Linked DNA regions of Homo sapiens. The protein of the gene in region 4 interacts with the protein of the main gene of each other region in a biochemical or structural test. Each region holds a gene or a part of one and is shown on either strand. Other genes may lie near its edges. The genes, in order: LOXL2, FBLN1, MMP12, ELN, LGALS3 and FBN1.

Region 1 (3,362 bases), on a different chromosome or scaffold from region 4:
CTGCAGGGCCTCTGTGCACAGCCTGCCCAATTTTGGGAGCTGGGTTGCACCTGCTGTGTAGCACCTGCCCACACTCCTTTGGCAGTTCAGGTATCCAGCCTTCTGGCCTGTGCTGTGGGACAGTTCTGGGACCCCTGGGCTGGTCCTGGTCTTACCTGTCAGTCAGTGCCAGTTCCTGCAAAATAAATGTAAACAAAGGCAAGAGGTGAGATCTGAATGCGTGCCGACGCCCTCATTCAATTGTGGTTTGAGTGGAGTTGGTGCCAAGGTGGTCCTACCTACCCTCTAGTTTGCTGGGCCCTAGCATGCTGTTGACACAAGGGGAAGTCCCCTGTGTCTGGGTGAGTCGCATGGGCCAGCCACCCCCCCACTGCCACTGGGAATTGCTGGGAGCCCCTGTCCTGTGAACGGATGCCCTCTTGCTTTGATAAGCTGCCTGGTGGCTGTTGTTTAAATCTAGACTTCCCATCCAGCCCTCGCACAACTCCTATGCCTTCTGACAAGTTTCAGTAAAAACCACAGGAGTTCAAGAAAGATTATGACTCCTGTTCCGTTACTTTTTGTGATCTCCTTAGATTGCTTCTCCCAGATGGTAGGAGCTGCCCCTTTTGGAGTCTATTGAAGGAGGTGCCCTGGTGGCCACACTGGGCTGGAGGGGATCTGAGGACCCATGTCCACCGGAGAAAACCACGAATGTACCTGAAGCTCTGCTTCTGGCCACTGAACATAGGAAGCCTGCTGCTCAGGGCCCAGGTGCTGTGGGTCAAAGGAAACACAGACACGTTTCATAAATCTTTCTTTTATTCCAAGTTTCAAGTATGTGTAAGTGTCTGTGATGACACATGGTGCTCAGTGAGCGCCCTGTCACCCAGGACCCTGGTTATAGCACCGTTGAATCAAAAACCCACAGAATTGGAACAACAGGAAGATGAGTCACTTACACAGTGGGTTGGTTTTTCCTTAGATTTGTACTTCCAAGGGCCCAGATGTCCAATATTAAATGCCAATAAATTTGTGCTTCAAAAGTCTGTGAAAATATAATAATAGTATCTTGAAAAACAAGGGGTGGGGGCTGTGGATAGGGAAGCACCAAGTCTGAGCTCACCAAATCAGAAAACACGTGGCACCATTATCTATGTGACTATAATAGACTGGAGGGTTTCATTGGAAGAGAGGTCTAGATATTCAAGTTTGCTGAAAATGACCTAAGAGGAGGAGAAATGGGGTTCGGCCTGACCCTCTCTGGGGGGGCTGATGAGCCCGCATTTGTCCACGTGTCACTGGAGAAGAGCGCGGCTCCACTGTGTCTGTGGTGAGCTCGGTGGCTTGAATGGGACAAGCTGATGACAACCTGTCTGTGGGCCTCATCCCGGTCAAGACTGGCTCTTGGTGCTGCTCCAGCAGCTCTGTGGACAAACCCCACCCCCGCAAGGCCTTCTCAGGCCCCAAGGGTCAGGTAGCAGCCCCCCATGAATGATGGGAGGGTCCCTTTCCTCCTGAGCTTAGACACAGCTGTAGGGGTCTGGACAGGGTGGGGGCCGGGCTGGGTGAGGGCACGTGGCATTCGTTCAGACTCAGTTGTTGGGGGGAAGTCCCATGGAAGATGTGGTGTGGCCTGAAGACAGGAGTTGACCACGCAGGCTTCTTTACTGCGGGGACAGCTGGTTGTTTAAGAGCCCGCTGAAGTGCTCAAACTTTTTTTCCGTCTCTTCGCTGAAGGAACCACCTGAAGAGCGAGAATCGGGTAGAGAGAGTGGACAAATGAGATGCTCGGGCCTTGCCTGACCCTGAGCCAGGGGAGTGGGCCTCAGGGGCTGCTGGGGCCACCTGTGTGTGCCCTCCTCAAAAGGACAGGTGCCAGGCACTGGCCATCTCTAGGGCTGGGCACATAGCAGGTGCTCTGTCAAAGTTGAGTGAACGAGTGAATAAATATAGCGCCTTTAATTTTAACCTTTTGCCAAGAGTGAGGCCCATGACTTTTCCTGCAGAGGAAAAAGCTCTGCCTTCCCTTTTGTTCCCCAAGTCCTATCATCCAAGGAAAAAAGTGTCTTTATTGGAGACTAGAAATAACAGTAGTTTGCTAGCTTCCAGCTCTCGACAGAAAAACCTGATAGGCAGAGCCCACAGATTGCTGATGCCCACATTTTTGAGGTCACATACATAATGAGCCAGTGGCCTCAGCTCCAACCCTTAAAAAGCCTTGGGGTCTGCACTGGGCTGGCCTGGTCCTGTACCATCCTCTATCCGTGGCCGGAGCTGGCTGTAAAAACTCAGTCTCCATCCAGGCCTGTGTGTCTGTGGCTTCTGTCCTGAATGTGGAAATGTGATGCTGGCTGCATTCCCCGAGCTCTTTACCCAAATTAGGAAGCTGCCTCTGGGTCCTTGAGAAAGTAGGGCAGCTCCCGCCTGCTTCCTGGAGTGGGGGCGGCCTGGCCTTACCTATGTGGCAGTTGTACATCCAGATGCGGTGGCCGTCATAGCGGCTCCTGCATTTCATGATGTTGTTGGAGTAATCGGATTCTGCAACCTCGAAGTTGGGGTTAATAACAACCTAGGGAGAAGCAGGGCAGAGGAGGCTGCTTGTTCCCTCTGCGGCCACCTCCACCCAGGCCTGGGGCTCTGAGAGACCAGCACCTCAGGGAAGGGGAGCGTGGCAGGTGCCGGGACCCAAGACGGGGGTCTGTGGGTCTCAACAAAGTCCTTGGGGAGGGGAAGAGATGAGTCAGGGAGCAGAGGAAGCATGGCCTGGAAGAGGGAAACCCTGCCCTCTGTCCATATCCGTGTAACACACACCCCTCTACCCAGGGTGGGCCTTCGGAAGGGGGTCACCCACTCCTGGGAGTTCTGGGGAAGGCAGAAGTTGGGGTCTGGGGAGGCCCCAAAAAGAAGATGCTGAAGAGAAGCAGAAGGGTGCAGGGAGGACCTGGCGGTGTGGGAACCTGGAAGAGGGCTGCCTGGGCGTTGGAGATGGGACACTCGTCACAGGCGTGTGACTGTGGACATGTCCCTTCCTCTCTCTGTAAAGTGACAGGTGGGACTTGGGGATCCATGTCCCTGTCTGCTCTGCTGGCCGAGGGCCTGGCTCTGGGGCTGCTGGAGAAGTTGCACCCTCTCCCCATCCTTCCACCCACCCCTGTATCCGCATCCCCCCAGCTACAGCAGGAATAGGAAGGACATATTCTGGGAGAGTGTCTGTGAGGGAACAGAAAAGGGGAGGTTTACGGTGAGGACCCGAGGAGAAAAGAGAAAGGGAGGGAGAGGGAGAAGAGACAACAGTGGTGAACAGAGGGGCAGAGGACACAGATGACAGGCCTTCCCTCGAGGGTCCTGCCACATTTGGAAGGGCTGCGACCCACAGCAGG
Region 2 (3,500 bases), on a different chromosome or scaffold from region 4:
TGAGCCCCCTCCTTACCTCTCAGCCATGCACCACCACCAAGACCTGAGATATGCGGCCCAAGGTCCCAGTGCATGTTGTAATTACCGCCGTGCACATTTATTAAAGAACAAGTCAGGAGTGGTTTGCTGCCTTCCCACCCTCACGCTTAAGGATGGGAAAAGTATATTAGAATTTCAGTTGGGGGCCAGGCACGGTGGCTCATGCCTGTAATCCCAGCAATTTGGGAGGCTGAAGCAAGAGGATCACTTGAGCCACGGAGTTCGAGACCAGCCTGGGCAACACAGCAAGGCCCCGTCTCTAATTTTTTAAAAATAAAAAATTAGCCAGGCATGGTGGTATACACCTATGGTCCCAACTACTTGGGAGGCTGAGGTGGGAGGATCACTTGAGCCTGGGAAGCTGAGGCTGCAGTGAGCAGTGATTGCACCATATCACTCCAGCCTGGGCAACAGAGCAAGACCGTGTCTCAAAAAAAAAAAAAAAAAAAAAAAAAAACCTCAGTTGGAGGGAAAACAGCAAACCACCCGCTTGCCTCCAAGGGTGGACATGGAAGGTTTGTCAGGTGAAGAAATCCCAGCAGGCTCTTCCCTGTGGATTTTGAAAGTCAGAGGCCGTGCTGCTGTGTCATGGCAAGACCAGGGGGTGCTTTCCCCCTCAGCAGGCAGGGGCGTCCGCACCTTCACAGGTGACTCCATCCACATCGCTGAGCTGGTAGCCTCGCCGGCAGTAACACTGGTAGGAGCCGTAGACGTTGGCACACTCCTGGCTACAGGGGCTGCTGCTGCACTCATTGATGTCTGAAATACAAAACGAGGGTCACCGCTCAGAGCATCATACGTCCCTGCCTCCACAGTAGCCCTCAGGGTCAGTGAACAGAAAATCTCCTCTCCACCTCCCTCAGGTTAACACACTCGGAGAGACAGAGGTCCCGGGGGGTGTGGCCGAGGGAGAGGCGTCATCGCTGGTGGCTCCGGACCCTCCATCCCTGCTCCTGCCTGCTTCGACCACAACTTCTCCTGCCAGGATGGCAGCGATCGCCTCCAGCCTTGGCCCCTGGAAGTCTGCCCCGACCTGGCTGCCAGAGTCCATTCTAGTTCTCAAATGGAAATCTGATCCTGTGCTCTCCACTTCACCTCCAAGATGGCATCCTAAACAGATGACGGCACACAAGGAAGTCCTCGGCCACCCAGCCCATACGCCAGTACTCCTCATACTCCAATGCACAGAACTCACTGGGCCACTCAGCAACTCTGAACTACTGCTCAACTGTCCCCTTTACCTAAAGCAGAGGTCAGCAAATCATAGTCTATGGGCCAAATTTGTCCCAACACTTGTTTTTATAAATAAAGTTTTATTAGAACACAGCCCGGCAAGGCATGGTGGCTCATGCCTGTAATTCCAGCACTTCGGGAGGCCGAGGTGGGCGGATCACGAGGTCAGGGGTTCGAGACCAGCCTGGCCAGCATGATGAAACCCATCTCTACTAAAAATACAAGAATTAGCCAGGCATGGTGGCACGCACCTGTAGTCACAACTTCTCGGGAGGCTGAAGCAGGAGAATTGCTTGAACAAGGAGGCAGAGGTTGCAGTGAGCCAAGATCACACCACTGCACTCCAGCCTGGGCGACAGAGCGAGACTCCGTCTCAAAATAATAATAACAATAAAATAAAGAATACAGCCACATTCACTCTTTTTTTTTTTGAGACAAAGTCTTTGTCTGTCGCCCAGGCTGGAGTACAAGTAGCTCAATCTCAGCTCACTGCAATCTCCACCTCCGGGAGGCTATTGTCCACTAAATGTGGACATGAATTCAAGCAGTTCTCCTGCCTCAGCCTCCTGAGTAGCTGGGGGATTACAGGTGTGCACCACCATGCCCGGCTAATTTTTGTATTTTTAGTAGACACAGGGTTTCACGATGTTGGCCATACTGGTCTCGAACTCCTGACCTCAAGTAATCCACCTGCCTCAGCCTCCCAAAGTGCTGGGATTACAGGTGTGAGCCACTGTGCCCTGCCACACTCATTCTTTTACCATGGTCCTCTGGCCACTTCTCTGCTACCACAGCAGAGTTCAGCGGTTGCAACAGAGATTGTGGCTGGAAAAGCCTTAAATCTATACTATGTGGCTGTCACAGAACGTCCAATAGCCTTCCACCCCGTGTTTCATCTCTGTGGCCCCCACACACCAGGCCTGGCCTCCACCTGTCCAGTGTGGTCTCTCATCCCCCGCTAGAGACACTCCCCAGTGCAGGACCGAGTTCTTGCTACACACCCGGGGCAGGACCCTAACAAATGGTTAGTAAGGTCACATAGCAAGGTTGGCCAGGCTCTGGTTCTATATCCACAATATTGTCCACTAATGTGGATATGAATGCCGACTTTTCAGCAATTTATGAATGACTAGAGGAAGCACAAGCCAGGAATCCCACTACTTCTACTAAATAATAATAAAGCCAGCAGCCTCCACACCGCCAGCTCTTCATCCTGTGCTTGGCCCTGTGATAAGCTCTTCACATGCTTAATCTCGTTTCATCCTCACAACCCCCTATGGGGTTGGTCCTACTATGCCCGTTTTACAGATGAGGACACCATGGCCCAGGAAAGACTGAGTTACTTCTTCAAGGCCATGGAAATGGCAGAAGTCAGGTTTGAACACAAGCCTGAGAGACTCAACTCGTGAATCTTGTTCCTTGTCCATACACGTTCTTGTGAACTAAGCCCAGGACCCCTCACACCGTCCGTCCTCCGATTTGAGAATCATGCACACCACAGCTCACTGTGGCATATCCAACCCCTGCGACCATCTCATCAGGAAGGAAAATTCTCATGGCAAAATGTTAGGACCTGCCATGTTTGAGTCAGGCTGCAGAAGCCGTCCTGTGAGCCAGTGCACGGCACCAAACAGGGTGTCATCGGCAATGTGGACGATTGTGGAGGGCCATCCAAAGCTCTCAGTGTCTGCTCAGCTCAGAACCTAATCCGTATACAAGACACGACATCTGCCAAGCACCTAGTATGTGCCAGGCCCTGGGCTGACATGCAGTTCATGTGACCTTCCCATCAGCCCAGGAGGTTGGTGTTATCTGAGAACCACAAGACTGTTGGCAGGAACAACTCTGTCCAACCCCCACATACCAAGAGACCTGACCCAACTTCAGCGTGGCTGCCATTGGCCCAAGACCAGGTATCCAGGATGTAGACCCAGCCCCCTTGACATGCCTGTCTGAGAAAGATCAATGCTGCCAAAAGAATTTTCTCTTGGTTCCAGCCCAAACCTGACTACAGGCGCTGACCTCCATGTTCCTTAGAAGCATCTACTTTAGAAAAACTTGCAAATGTAAACGGTTTCTCTGTCCCTTTGAGATGTGCAACCAAGGAGTGTCTTTCTCAAGGGCTGGGGACATGCCTGGGGAATGTCGTCATCCGGAAGGCCAGGGTGCTTCTCCCTGTCTCTGCGGGTGGGGAAAGCCTAACTCCAACACGAAGTTAGAGGCAGGCC
Region 3 (3,500 bases), on a different chromosome or scaffold from region 4:
TATTTAGAAGCAATGAAAACTGTTGAACGCAGCTGTGAGTTATTCTAGGAATTTTTACAACAGAATATATTTCATTTGTCTACTAGTACAGAGGTCCCTAACCCTAGGCAATTTTGTCCCCAAGGAGATATCTGACAATGTCTGGAGACATTTTTTGGTTGTCAAAACTAAAAAGGATTTGCTACTTGCATTTAGGGGTAAAACCTGAGATTTCTAAACAACTATAATGCACAGAACAGCCCAGACTACTGAACTGTAATGTCAGAAGTGCTGAGATTGAGAAACCCAACTCAAAAGGGTAAAGAAATAAGTAAAAGATTCTCAAATCTTTCTTTTTCACTGTGTCAGATATTGTGTTCTTGTCCAAGATGATAATGCATTTCACAGCTGTCTTTTGGTTGGTTTCTTCTTAGGCACAAACTTGTTCCTCACTGCTGTTCACGAGATTGGCCATTCCTTAGGTCTTGGCCATTCTAGTGATCCAAAGGCCGTAATGTTCCCCACCTACAAATATGTTGACATCAACACATTTCGCCTCTCTGCTGATGACATACGTGGCATTCAGTCCCTGTATGGTGAGTTGAATTCTTTATCATTTTGCCATATAAAGATACTCGCTTTTATGAATAGTCTAACAATATCTATATTTGGATAAAACGTTAATATCTGTCTTTTTTTAAGCCGCATAAGAACCCTGTGTGGCAGGTGACACAGGTATTATCTTCATTATACAGATGAGGACAAGAGACCTAGTATGTTAACGTCAGAGCCAGAGGCAGAACCAGAGGCCTCAAGTCTGGTGTTCTTTCTATCCAAGATACCATTGCCTTACTGATGAAGGCCCACACATTAAACAATCTATTATAACTGGAAAAGGAAAGTAAAGATAATCAGATTTTCTTCCTCCATGATATTGCAACCATGTGGAAAAAAAACCTTACTTTATACTTCCTGTGAATGTTATAGAAAGCTTAAAATGATTTTGATGCAATGTTCATTAAGAAAATTGAGTATTTAAAACATAACTGTTCCTCCTCTGAACTACAATGCAGATTTTGTTTACTAATGCTTCTCGAAATGTATTTTCAGGAGACCCAAAAGAGAACCAACGCTTGCCAAATCCTGACAATTCAGAACCAGCTCTCTGTGACCCCAATTTGAGTTTTGATGCTGTCACTACCGTGGGAAATAAGATCTTTTTCTTCAAAGACAGGTAGGATCATTTTCATATCTAACCAATATTAAAGTTTCTGCCTTTAAATTTTTTTTGTCAGAAAACAGTGGAAAATAATTGAAAATGAAGTAGATGAAACTTGTAAGCAGGAACTTGGACTCGATTCTGTAGGCAGTGAGGAGATCTTAAAGGTTTTGAAGCAGGAGACAGGTGTAATTACATTTGTGTTTTAACTAGAAAACTGGTGTGTAAAAAACGATTTGCAGTAGGAATCTGGGATGGGGATTTAGAAGATAAGAAACAGAAGCCAGACTATTTTAATCATAGATAAAAATGGTGAAGTCTGAAACCAAGACTGTAAAACAGTACCTATGCAAGAGACTTGATTTCCTGGTTATGGAGGAGAGAATTCCAGGATAACTTATGGTTTCTTTCTTAGAACACAGACTGAAGCAGATGTTGGTGGTAAGGAGGGGCAGTTGGGAAGACTAACATTTGTCAAGTAGGACAAATATTTCCCATTTTTGAGATTATAAGACTGATACACTTGAGGATAGTGACTTCCTTGAGGTTACAAAACTGGTGAGTGAATTGTAGGGTCGAACCAGAAGCTTAGATCCCTGGATTCCAAGCTCCAGGGTATTTCTGTATACCAGATTGCTTGTTAAAGTCATTGTTATTATCAAAGAGTTGATTGATATCCTTTTCTTGTGGATCCATGAACATCAGACATCCATGGAACAGAATGTGAAGACAATGGAAAGAAATATTGGGTCTTTTCACAGTTCCCTCCCATTCACATGCCATGGTTCTTGAGTCTACATTGTCTTTTAACATGTGTCAAATGTCTTTCATGTCAGGTTCTTCTGGCTGAAGGTTTCTGAGAGACCAAAGACCAGTGTTAATTTAATTTCTTCCTTATGGCCAACCTTGCCATCTGGCATTGAAGCTGCTTATGAAATTGAAGCCAGAAATCAAGTTTTTCTTTTTAAAGGTAATTCTAATCTTTAGTTTTGCCATTGAGTTTACTTCAAGGAAGAGAATAAATTGAGAAGAGACTACTACTTTTTAATAGATATAGACCAAGAAAGCACTCTTGATTTTATTAATAGTGGCTCGCTCTGAAGTGTAAACTAAAATAGCCTAAATACCTAAGTAATATATACAACTTCTGGGAAAAGTTTGTAAACTACAAAATAGTAATACTTGTGAAAAAAAACCATGGGAACCATAGAAAAGAGACTATGTTTAAGATCAATAAGCAATAAATATTATAACTGTTGGAAAGGAATTATGTTGTTTATAGTAAATCAATATTTTCTTATTACTCTTCCTGTATAATTCAAATTTACCCTATTTCTTTGTCTTCACAGATGACAAATACTGGTTAATTAGCAATTTAAGACCAGAGCCAAATTATCCCAAGAGCATACATTCTTTTGGTTTTCCTAACTTTGTGAAAAAAATTGATGCAGCTGTTTTTAACCCACGTTTTTATAGGACCTACTTCTTTGTAGATAACCAGTATTGGAGGTGAGTTTTAATGGTTGGTCATTCGACCCCTCAGATTGTGAAACAGATATGGAATGAGGCTTTCTAGAAGGCACATTTTCTGCGCAAATTCCCAAAGCTCCTTGACCTTCCAGGGAGAGAGATTAAGAGAATATAGGACTGAAATAGTTATTGTCAACTTAGTTCTTTGTGTTTTTGGTTTCTGATATATGAAATAGTAGATAATGTGTGTTTTTTTTTAAAAAAACACTCTAAATAAAATGTCATCTTATTAATCATAGTGGAAACACATTGGAAAATAGTGTCATAGATGTACAAGACCAAGTATTTAATCTACAGTCAGTTTCGAGGGTTATGGATTTCCAGATTCCTTTCTGTAATCACTGGATTCAAAAGACAAAATGAGACAACCATCCTCTAAATGACAGGAGGTCAGGAGGTCCTGCAAGATCTTCCTTAAAAGAAAGTCATATGGTCAAGTGAGGATAGGAGCTCATTTGAGTGTCTGTCTCTGTTGTCTCAATTGTCTACATTTTGAAGGAGGAGAGGATTCTGTATTCCTTCTTCTGAGTAAGCCAGTCATTTCCTAGATTGCTTGCCTGGTTGACATGAGACATAACATATATGTTAAGCTTACATTTACAACTGTTATTTATTCTTAAGCATTTAAAACACAATATCTAATTCCAATTGAATACCGGATGCTTATGACTTGAATTTGTCCACCAGCCCTTAGCTCTGTTTGAGAAACAAAACTTGATTTTAGCAAATAACACTTTCCAAAGAGCTCACAAATGGGTGTAGTTTGCTGTAG
Region 4 (3,500 bases):
AGTTAATCAGGGCAAAACAATAGAGATGGCATCTCAGGTAGAGTGATCAGAAGGGGCAAAGGTAAGGAGGCATGAACAATGCATATTTGGGAAGGAACAAAGGCCAAGTCCATCTGGCTTTGCGGCTAGGGTCTCCGAGGTCTATGCAGGGGCCCGAGCCGTGGACTTGCCACCCCGGGAGGCACTCACCATACTTGGCTGCCTTAGCGGCTGCTGCTGCAGCTGCAGCTGCAGCTGGAGTCCCAACGCCTGAAAACACAGCCACAGAGGGTGAGGTCCTTGCCCTGTGGCCATCTCAAGGACACACCCGCCCCCTGCTGGGACAGATGTTACCTGCGATGCCTCCAATTCCAGGAATTGCCCCAGGCACGCCAGGAACACCAGCCCCTCCAACACCAGGGAGGACTCCGGCTGCTCCAGCACCTGTTGAGATGGGGACAGTGCAATGTAGTTTCCCAAGGACCCTCCTGAGGACAGGCAGGATGGCCACTTAGACGCCGGCGTTTTCACCAGTGTGATCTTATCCAGGAATGGGGCCCGGGTGTCTCCAGATGGGCCTGTCTGGGGAGGCCCCCACCCCACTCCACTGTTCCTTGACTCTCCCCCAAAGTGTCCATTTCAACACACTCATTAAGGGACTTGTATGTTTTCAGACAAATCCCATTCTAATCACTGCCACATACTGAGAAACCACAAGTGGCCGCTCCCTGGGCCAGAGGGTCCCCTGCAGGAATGTTCAAGACTTCCTCTCCCTGTGTTCCGAAGATGCAGCCAAGTTTGTAATCCAAGCGCCTGGCTGCTTGGCTCTGGCAGCCCCTCACAGCCCTGCTCTCCCGCTCCCACATTGCAGCCGTCCCCACCAGCCGCTGGGGCCAAGGAGCCTCGGGTGCTGGGAGGGGGGCCTGCGGGGCCTCCACTGGGAGGCCCAGCTTCAGGCTTCTCCCCACATTCTCGCTCTCTCGGGCTGGTGGGGAGATAAGGAAAGGGCTTCCCTGGGGCTGAGGATGAAGGAGGACTTCAGCCCTAGTGGTCTGACCCTGAGGTGGGCACTACCTGGGGCAGGGGACAGATGCCCACTCCACCCACTGCACGGGCACAGGAATACCACGTTCCATCTGCAGCCATGCTAGCCAAGAACTCACTGACCTGAGCAGTGAGTTAACATTTTTATAGTACACATTAAATTGATACATAACTATTAAATATTTTAAATGCTTATATATGCACCACCTAAAATTATCTTTCTAACCACCGTGGTACCCATTCCCTCTGCTTGGCCTCCTCTTTCCTGTTTTAACCACATGGTAAGCTCCATCTTTATTTTTAAGGCCTAAATCACATGTCACTTTCTCTGGGAAGCCTTTCTAACTTTCCTCAGGTAGAAAAAAATGCCTCCCGTTTCTTGACTCCCACAACAGTGGCTATATTCTCTAAGAGAACTCTTGTTTGTCCCTGATCTCTGATATGGATGGGTGGGAGGAGGCAGTGAGGGAGGGAAGGAAGGAGGCATGGATGAATGCATGGAGGAAAGAATGAATGAATGAATGAATGAATGAATGAATGAATGCATGGGTGAATGGATGGATGGGTGCATGGATGCATGGAGGAATGGATGGATGGATGGATGCATGCATGGAGAAATGGATGGATGGGTGCATGGAGGAATGGATGGAGGGATGCACGGAAGAATGGGCAGATGGATGGATGGATGGATGGAAGAATCAATGGAGGGAGTGATGGATAGATGGATTGATGGATGGATGGATGGATGGATGGATGGACGAGTGGATGGATGGGTAAATGGATGGATGGATGAGTGGATGGATGAATGGATGGATGGATAGATGGATGCATGGAGGAATGGATGCATGGAGGAATGGATGGATGAGTGGATGGATAGAGGGAAGAATGGATGAATGAGTGGATGGATAGAGGGAAGAATGGATGGAAGGAAGAATTGATGGGTAGATGGATGGATGGATGGATAGATGGGTGAGTGGATGGATGGATGGATGGATGGATGGATGGATGGAAGGATGCATGGAGAAATGGATGGATGGGTGGATGGATGCATGGAGGAATAGATGGATGGATGGATGGATGGATGAATGGATGGAAGGATGGATGCATGCATGGAGAAATGGATGGGTGGGTGCATGGAGGAATGGATGGAGGGATGCATGGAAGAATGGGCAGATGGATGGATGGAAGAATCGATGGAGGGAGTGATGGATGGGTGGATTGATGTATGGATTGATGTATGGATGGATGGATGGATGGATTGAGTGGATGGATGGGTAAATGGATGGATGGATGAGTGGATGGATGAATGGATGGATGGATAGATGGATGCATGGAGGAATGGATGCATGGAGGAATGGATGGATGAGTGGACGGATAGAGGGAAGAATGGATGGATGAGTGGATGGATAGAGGGAAGAATGGATGGAGGGAAGAATTGATGGGTGGATGGATGGATGGAAGGATGAATGCATGGAGGAATGGATGGATGGATGAATGGATGCATGGAGGAATAGATGGTGGATGGATGGATGGAAGGATGGATGGAAGGATGGATGCATGCATGGAGAAATGGATGGATGGGTGCCTAGAGGAATGGATGGAGGGATAGATGGATGCATGGAGGAATGGTTGGATGGATGAATGGGTATATGGGGGAATAGATGGATAGATGGTGGATGGATGAATGGAGCGAGGGAGTGATGGATGGATAAATGGATGGATGGATGAGGGGATGGATGGATGGGTGCATAGATGGATGGATGCATGGAGGAATGGATGGATGCGTGGATGGATGGATGGAAGAATGGATGGAGGGAGGGATTGATGGATGGAAGAATGGATGGAGGGAGGGATTGATGGATGGATGAATGGGTGGATAAGTGGATGGATGGATGGATAGATGGCTGCATGGAGGAATGGAGGATGGATGAATGGAGGGAGGTAGTGATGGATGGGTGGATGAATGGATAGATGGATGAGTGGGTGGATGGATAAATGGATGGATGGATGTGTGGACAGATGGATGGATAGATGGATCCATGGAGAAATGGATGGATGGATGGATGGATGGATGGATGGATAGATGGATGGATGAATGGATGGAGGGAGAGATGGATGGATGAATGAGTGGATGGATGAGTGGATGGATGGATGGATGCATGGATGTGTAAATAAGTAGATGAATGGATAGATAAGTGGATGGATGGATAGATGGATGCATGGAGGAATGGATGGATGGATGGATGAATGGATGGAGGGAGAGATGGATGGATGAATGAATGGACGGATGAGTGGATGGATGCATGGATGGGCAGATGAGTACATGAATGGATGGATGGATAGATGGATGCATGGAGGAATGGGAATGGATGGAGGGAGGGATGGAGAAAGTAATAGATTGATGGAAGGATGAATGGATACATGGATGCATGGAAGAATGGTTGGAGGGAGGGATAGATAGATGGGTGATGTTGAAA
Region 5 (3,500 bases), on a different chromosome or scaffold from region 4:
AATCAGTAGATTCTGGGGGTTCTTCCTCTGTAATCTCTCTTACATCTGCCTGTTCCTTTCCACAGCCTTCATGTCTCCCTCTCTCTGCAACTGACTAACCATCTCTGGTATAGGCCCTCTCAATGCCACCCACTCCCCCAAGTCTTTCTACTCTAAACTGACCTAAAAGGAGACAATGCTACCTTGTGCTGTCTTCTGCATAGTCCTGAAATGGTCTAATCCCATACTGGTACTTAGCTCTTTCCTCATATTTATTATATGTTTTATCATCCAACTAGATTATAAATCTGGAAAGGAAGGATCCTGTGGCTGAGATGTATCTGGATCCCCCATGGAGTTATGTTTTACACTTAGAATTCACTTGCTATGACATATTTTAATTTGCGTGAAAATTCAACCCTTAGATCACAAAATTATCTTTAGAAGGTTTTTCAAAACCAGATTACCCTGGTTCCTCTACATGTTTGCTCAATGACCCTGGACAAATTATATCACTTCTCTATTGCCCCATTTCCCCATGTGTGAAATGGGGTTATTAACAGTATCTTATAGCGTGGTAATGGGGTTAAATGAGATTATCCATGTAGATGCATACTATTGACATGTACTCCGTAAGTGTTAATAATAACCAAAATGTTCTCCATTACTACAATCTTGATTTATATTCATAAGCAGTTTTATCAGTGCCTTCAAAATACTCATTACCTTCTGTTTATACTAACCACACACAATAAGCTCAATATGAACACTTAATTTTTTGACTCTACCAACATACACCCATGGCTGGCCCTTGAGAAGTGGCTCTAAGCAGCAGCTTTAAAGCTCAGGGTCTCCCTGAAGCCCTCTGCATGTCAAGTACATGAAAGAAGGAATGCCATCTCACCAGTGGCCCAGCAGGGGCGCCATAGGGGCCAGTGGCAGGGTAGGCTCCGGTGGCACTTGGCTGTCCAGAAGATGGGTAGGCCCCAGGGCCGCTGGGTGGCCCTGGGTAGACTCCAGGTGCAGGTGCTCCGGGATAAGCTCCAGGTGCTCCAGGGTAGGCGCCTGGAGGTGCCTGTCCAGGATAAGCCCCTGGGGGTGCCTGCCCGGGGTAGGCCCCAGGATAGGAAGCCCCTGGGTAGCCCCCTGCCCCAGCAGGCTGGTTCCCCCATGCGCCAGGCCATCCTTGAGGGTTTGGGTTTCCAGACCCAGATAACGCATCATGGAGCTGGAAAGAAAGACATACACAATTACGGGACAGAAAGCATTCTCAAAAGCAGAATTTTCAGGAAAATAGGAATATGTGATCTAAGAAGGAGAGGAATATGGCAAAGGCATTACATGCATATCATTAAACTTTTTCCACTTATTAATAGTTTGAGTTTCTAAGACTAAAATTAGATGTTGGGATTACATATACTTTTTCACTTTATTCTTGCCTCCCAACGTCTCAGATCAGGGAGGGCTGCATTTTCATAATTAGCTCAAGTCAGGAGTTAGCGCTCCTCTACTTATAGCACATACTTTTTCATCACCGTGAGAAAAACAATCACAAACATCAGAATGCCCAGACTGTACCGCACTTCCCGCTACTCAGAGGATTTCTCAGCTCCTGCCGGCAGAGTCCACTCCCTTCCGCCCTGGGCCTTTTGGTGAAAGGGTTACTGTGAGTGAGTCCCAGGCCTCGCTCTGCCTGGCTTTCTTCCCAAATCTGCTGCTGGAAAAACAAGGCTCCAGCTTGCAAGCCCTCATTGGACAAATGAGTCCAGGGGAAGCCACGCAGTGGGAGAGTGAAAAGGGAAAGTCATGGTAAAAACAAAACCCCCAACCCTCAACCATGTGGAGCTGATCAAGGGGAAGAAACAGGCATAAAACACTTACCGAAAAATTGTCTGCCATTTTCCTGAAAGAAACAAAGATTATCATTTTATCCTAAAAGCTTTCACCAATTTCCATTAAACTGAACCTCACCACTAGTTCATTGTGCAGTTCTAATCCATCTCTAGGCATTATGCCTAAGTCAGTAGTGTGGCGCCACAAAAACATCTCTTCAAGGGGCAGGGATGCTATCCAGCTAGATTGCCAAACCCTATTTAACTCACAAGTTTAAACTTCCGTCACACTAGCCTGTGCTCTGAATCTTACCCATCTGCCCTCTGTCCCCACTAACTGCCCCATCCCCTACTCTGGGTTTTTGAAGATAAGCAGTGATTGATTACTACTGAGACAGGAAAGACAATGACCTCCAGACATAGTTGCTGCCCTGCTATTTATTCCTCTATTTGCACACACTTATGCCTGCTCCTGGCCAGGCACTGCGCAGGCTCCTATCTAGGTGTGAAGATGAATAGGCCATGATCTGCATGGTCAAAGGGGCCACAGGATCTAAAACTCAAAACAATTGAGCCCACAGAGATATAGAATAGAAGGATGGTTACCAGAGGCTGGGAAAGGTAGTGAGGGAGGGTGGGAGGGAGGTGGGGATAGTTAATGGGTGACAAAAATAGTTATAATGAATGAATAAGGCCGGGTATTTGACAGCACAGCAGGGTGACTATAGTCAATAATTTCATTGTACGTTTGAAAATAACTAAAAGTATAACTGGATTGTTTGTAACACAAATAAATGAGAAGAGGGATACCCCATTTTCCATGATGTGATTATTAGGCATTGCATACCTGTGTCAAAACATCTAACGTATGCCATAAATATATATACCTGCTATGTACCCATAAAGATTAAGAATTAAAAAAAAATAAAAGCCGAAGGGCCTACAGTGCAGCAAGGCAGATGAGATGCATCCATGGAAATGTGAAATAACAAGTCACAGATGCTATGAGTCAGAATGTGTGCTGTAGGAATTCAAACCCAGAAAGCTTACTTCTAAGAAGGAAAGGAAAGGTGCTGTTGGAGCTAAGCCTCAAAGGGGAGCTGAAGTTTGTATGTGCTTTTTTTTTTTCAAAGGTACTTGTTATTCCAAATAAAATATTTGGCAGTACAACAAACTAAGGTGAAAAAATTCAGGCAACGTGACGTGAAGGAAAAAAATATTTGGGTCTAAGATGCTACCAAAGAGGGTTTGCCTAAGGGGTGGTCTGGAGACATCAGTCCTGCTTTCTCCTGTTCCTTCCCATGTCAAGGCTCCAAAAGCACAAGATGCTTCACAGCTGTTGTAGGTGCTCCAGCAGTGAGGGGAGGAGGGCAGCTGGGCCCCTGAGGCATGGGTGAGTTCTTCCTAAGCTCAGGATCACCTGTGCCATGGCCTGAATTACCTGGACCTTGAAACAACCAGAATATCCTTCTCTTTGATTTGCCCACCTGTGATATTTACTCAATCACTTTTAGAAATGGCATCGGCCCCAAGGGATCCAATAAATGTCCACTACTTGATTCAAATGCAAGATATTGGCTGGGTGTGGTGGCTCATGCCTGTAATCCCAGCACACTGGGAGGCCAAGGTGGGCAAATCGCTTGAGCCCAAGAGTTCAAGACTAGCCTGGGCAATATGGCAAAACCCTGT
Region 6 (3,897 bases), on a different chromosome or scaffold from region 4:
ATTTGTGAGAATGTCTTTAACTGAGATCCAATCCTGTGAATAAAACCAGTCATGAATATACATGGAAATTTGCAAAGTCAAGTGTACAGCCCTTTTCTATCTCTCCAACCCTAACACTCAGAATAATATAGATCATCCTTTCCTAACTCATACGTAATGTCAGGCTCATACTGGGTTTCAAAAAAAGCATAATGAAGTAAATTGTTTTTTTTTTCTTCTCTCTTTTTTACAAAGTGTTATTTTAAATTGGCAAGGGGTAAATATCTGTCTTCAGCTATAAATGTGAAACTAATATTTCTGCCAGTAATGATCTTCTAACTTTAAAAACAATGTCCTTAAATCATTTAATAATTACATTCCTAATAATTACATTTCTAATACAGTTCTCTAAGAACTACAGTTAAAACCAGAATAAAATATATTCTGTGGACCAAGTTGATGGTAATTTTAAAATCCCTAACATTTATGGGTATATAACTTTTAAGGATACTAATGCAGCATCAACCCAATTGTCCTTTATTTTGGCTCATCTAATTTACAGACATGATTTCTGAAGTTTAACAGTATTTGTAATGGCAATATCCAAAGTGATTTTGGCTGAGTAAACTGCTATTTGTTGAACAAAAATGTAGTTGTTTGTGCAAGTTTAAACATTTCACAAGGCCAGCTGAGTTCATTTCAACCCTACTTACAAAATAATTATTGGCAAATGAAATGGGCTGAGGGGGTAGAGACAAGATATTTTCAAGCTTCTGAGAGATTTACAAAGCCAAGTTCTTCAACTATTGAAAGTGAAATTGAAAGGTCACAGACAATTGAAAGGTACAGGTTTAAATCTCAGGATTAAAAAGAGTTCCAACAAGAGGAATATTTACAATGGAACAATGAGGAAAATGTTTTGTTACAGTCAGAAACATGGAAAATATGCTGTTCAAAATTGTTGGCTCAGGAATAAATAAAATCCAGACTTGGACTATTAAAAATATCAAAGTGATCCACTGTGTGCCAACTCCATTTTCCCCTGTTGTTTGTTATAAAGAAAATCCGTTATTGAATATAATGCAGTTCTGGTTAAATTATCAAAGACATTTTCCATATGCAAACTGTTGTTTACCATATGCTATATATTCTTCGATAACAATTTTAATACACCTCTATCACATGGTTCCATAGGTGCAGCGTTAGAAGGAAATTTTGAGTTATATTTTAATCTCTTACCCAAGGTACAAACCCCCTTTGTAACAGCCATTCAGCTCATTCTGTTGAGCACCTATTATAAACAAAATTAGAGATACAAAAATACCTTTAAGATGTTAATGGCCTGTTAGGTGGAAGAAAGCATCTTTGTCCAATGGTTGCCATTAAGCCTAGACTGAAACTCTTCTATCTTGTGACAGGGAGCTCACCACAATGCAAGGAAACCCATTCTTTCAGTGAGTAGCTCTATAATTGGGACCGTGTGTATTAAACTGGGGCTGACATCAGCTGACCCTGGTTTTGCCTTCCGGAATAGTATGAGCCAAATCTACTCCATTTTTTTCAGCTGAGCTCTTCAAAGATTTTTGAGAGCACTTTCCTGTGTCCTACCTAGTTTCTCCGCCCACCACCTTCATGCCATCTTATTTCCTCTTATTTTCACTACCACGAAATGCTTTCCTGCCCTTAGGGATTTAAAAAATTATTTCATATCGACGGATTGAGCCTAACAGCTAAATACTCAATATTGCACTTAAAATAAAACAGACTTTAAAAATTATGACATTAAGAAACCAAAAGTTACAGCAATTGGATACAGTCTGGGATTATCCCTTTGTAATTAGATGAGCATTGACTAACGAAAGATGTTTAGGGGAAAAAAAAATGGAACAGAACACCTAAGGCTTGCCAAAACTGTGTATATTTGAGAGGGGGGCATGATAAATCTATTATAATGAAATTCATGTGCTCTAAGACAATGACTGAACTTGGTATTTAAGACTATTTAAAAGTCACAAGATGAATTAGGTCATGTTTCAGAAATGACTCTACAATCTAAATTTCTCACAAGCAAGTCAGGTTAATGACACCAGACTCTGCTACTTTCAATGGATAAAACAAGGGATCGACTCATATGTTAAATTTTCTTCTAGTGGTTATACATTTGGTACTTTCATAAGCCATAAGTAAGAGACCCAGGATAATTTAAATCCAGGAGACTTTATTTAGCCTCCGGAATGGCCCCTCCAACCCCAAATCCATGCAAGAACACAAAGCCAAGGGGTAAACTAAAAAAAAGAAGAGATTGTTTTATTGTGACATTTATGACATTGACCCCTTGTTGACAGGAATGACCGAGGGTAATCTTGGCATATTGCACATGCTGTGATGAAGGATGCACTGGTGATCCTCTGGCCACTGAGGCTGTTTCCTGGTCCTCCCAGACCTCTATGCACGTGTGGGCCAGTCACCGAAATTTCATTACCACTTGGTGTATACATTTAACAAGTCTTTGGTCTTAATAAGCACCATTACAAACCCTCACATTAAGGGCATTATTATTCTAGTTTATAAATGTTTCAATGATAAAAAATAGCACGATTACAGTATACACACACTTAATTTACATGTAATGTATTATACTCATAACTGAGATAAGCTACTGAACTAACTTTGGTTGATTGAAATTAATGAAGTATTGGAACTGAATACTTGTAATTTGGTTTCTAAGTTGTGTACATATTACAGTGCATTTATAAATCTAGTTTGAAAATTTACTAGCACCAAATAGGTACCATAAATGGACAACCTAGTACTTGTATTTGGAGAAGCAAAGTTTACAAATTTGCAAAAAATAGAGTAGTCCATCAATTGAAAGCACATTCCCGTACGTTTGCTGGAAGGATGGCATGTCAGCATAAATGGCCAACCCCCAATGGAAATACACGTCCCAGTTTTCAAGAATCAACACATATGACAAGGTAGCTTAGCTACACACATGAGAAGCCTGAGAAAGTGGTTGTTTTGAACTAGGGTAGTCACCTGTACCTTGCTTTGGTAATACAAAGAATAGTGCTTATTTATACAAATTTACTTGGTGAAAGATTGTACCTATGATATGATGATTCTGATTGGGGGAAAATATAGTTCTACCTATCTATATTTGTTTTTCTTTTAATTATTTGGTCTCTGGATGGTGAATTAATGAAGCAAAACCTGGATTTTCATCTTCAGATTATCACCCAGTTCACCACTGAGGTAGTCTTTGTCATATTTGTCTTCTAGTTGGTTAAGTTCTTTCTTTTTATAAAGTGGAGTACTACTGATTTGTAATGAATAGGTTCCAGCCACTGGCTTCTTCTTTGTGAAGTGGAGGTAGCTGATCCCTTCCTTTTGGTTGATTTTAAAGAAGCCATCTTCATTTCCAGATTCGATCAAGTATCTGTTGTGATTCGTCAGAGTTGTAAGAGCTGGAAGGAGTTCTAGGATTCGAACCTTGTTACTGACGTGGGAAATATTGAAAGCAAAGATGGCTGTCTTCTCAACATCCCAACTTGCAAGACTCACATTGGCTTCTGTCTCAGACTGATCCTGGAAAGACACATGGCAATATGTTAAATACAATGTACATATGCCACTTAGCTCTCATATTAAAGAAAAAATGACTCAAATTTCACACTAATACAATTTTCTGCCTTATGCTGCATACACAATATTGAAAGCATTTTGTTTAGACCACAAGTGTATTAAATTGGCACATATTTGTAATATTTGAAAATATTAACTGATGTCAGGAAGAAAGGCAGGTTGAAATCATTTGTATCTGGAGGTCTCAAAATGTAGTCCCTGAACAAGCTGCATCAGCATCACCTGGGAATCTGTTAGAAATGCAAATTCTCGGCATCACCCCAGAACTACTGA

Evidence for each region.
Region 1: the proteins of ELN (region 4) and LOXL2 interact in a biophysical measurement, tested with the Homo sapiens proteins (one study listed by IntAct).
Region 2: the proteins of ELN (region 4) and FBLN1 form a complex in vitro, tested with the Homo sapiens proteins (one study listed by BioGRID).
Region 3: of the proteins of ELN (region 4) and MMP12, one has a biochemical effect on the other in vitro, tested with the Homo sapiens proteins (one study listed by IntAct).
Region 5: the proteins of ELN (region 4) and LGALS3 form a complex in vitro, tested with the Homo sapiens proteins (one study listed by BioGRID).
Region 6: the proteins of ELN (region 4) and FBN1 form a complex in vitro, tested with the Homo sapiens proteins (one study listed by BioGRID).

The regions. Positions count from the first base shown.
Region 1 is NC_000008.11:23,296,397-23,299,758, forward strand, and holds the end of LOXL2 (lysyl oxidase homolog 2 precursor), read right to left. Parts: intron 2,552-3,362; coding exon 2,440-2,551; intron 1,727-2,439; coding exon 1,647-1,726; 3' UTR 501-1,646; downstream 1-500. UniProt on the Homo sapiens protein: Mediates the post-translational oxidative deamination of lysine residues on target proteins leading to the formation of deaminated lysine (allysine).
Region 2 is NC_000022.11:45,544,383-45,547,882, reverse strand, and holds part of FBLN1 (fibulin-1 isoform D precursor), read right to left. Parts: intron 799-3,500; coding exon 679-798; intron 1-678. UniProt on the Homo sapiens protein: Incorporated into fibronectin-containing matrix fibers. May play a role in cell adhesion and migration along protein fibers within the extracellular matrix (ECM).
Region 3 is NC_000011.10:102,864,983-102,868,482, reverse strand, and holds part of MMP12 (macrophage metalloelastase preproprotein), read left to right. Parts: intron 1-413; coding exon 414-575; intron 576-1,089; coding exon 1,090-1,213; intron 1,214-2,034; coding exon 2,035-2,168; exon of another isoform or gene 2,169-2,547; coding exon 2,548-2,707; exon of another isoform or gene 2,708-3,285; intron 3,286-3,500. UniProt on the Homo sapiens protein: May be involved in tissue injury and remodeling. Has significant elastolytic activity. Can accept large and small amino acids at the P1' site, but has a preference for leucine.
Region 4 is NC_000007.14:74,048,673-74,052,172, reverse strand, and holds part of ELN (elastin isoform a precursor), read right to left. Parts: intron 424-3,500; coding exon 334-423; intron 250-333; coding exon 190-249; intron 1-189. UniProt on the Homo sapiens protein: Major structural protein of tissues such as aorta and nuchal ligament, which must expand rapidly and recover completely.
Region 5 is NC_000014.9:55,135,752-55,139,251, reverse strand, and holds part of LGALS3 (galectin-3), read right to left. Parts: intron 2,270-3,500; exon of another isoform or gene 1,883-2,269; coding exon of another isoform or gene 1,879-1,882; coding exon 1,861-1,878; exon of another isoform or gene 1,208-1,860; coding exon 884-1,207; intron 1-883. UniProt on the Homo sapiens protein: Galactose-specific lectin which binds IgE. May mediate with the alpha-3, beta-1 integrin the stimulation by CSPG4 of endothelial cells migration.
Region 6 is NC_000015.10:48,407,813-48,411,709, forward strand, and holds the end of FBN1 (fibrillin-1 isoform a preproprotein), read right to left. Parts: intron 3,568-3,897; coding exon 3,178-3,567; 3' UTR 501-3,177; downstream 1-500.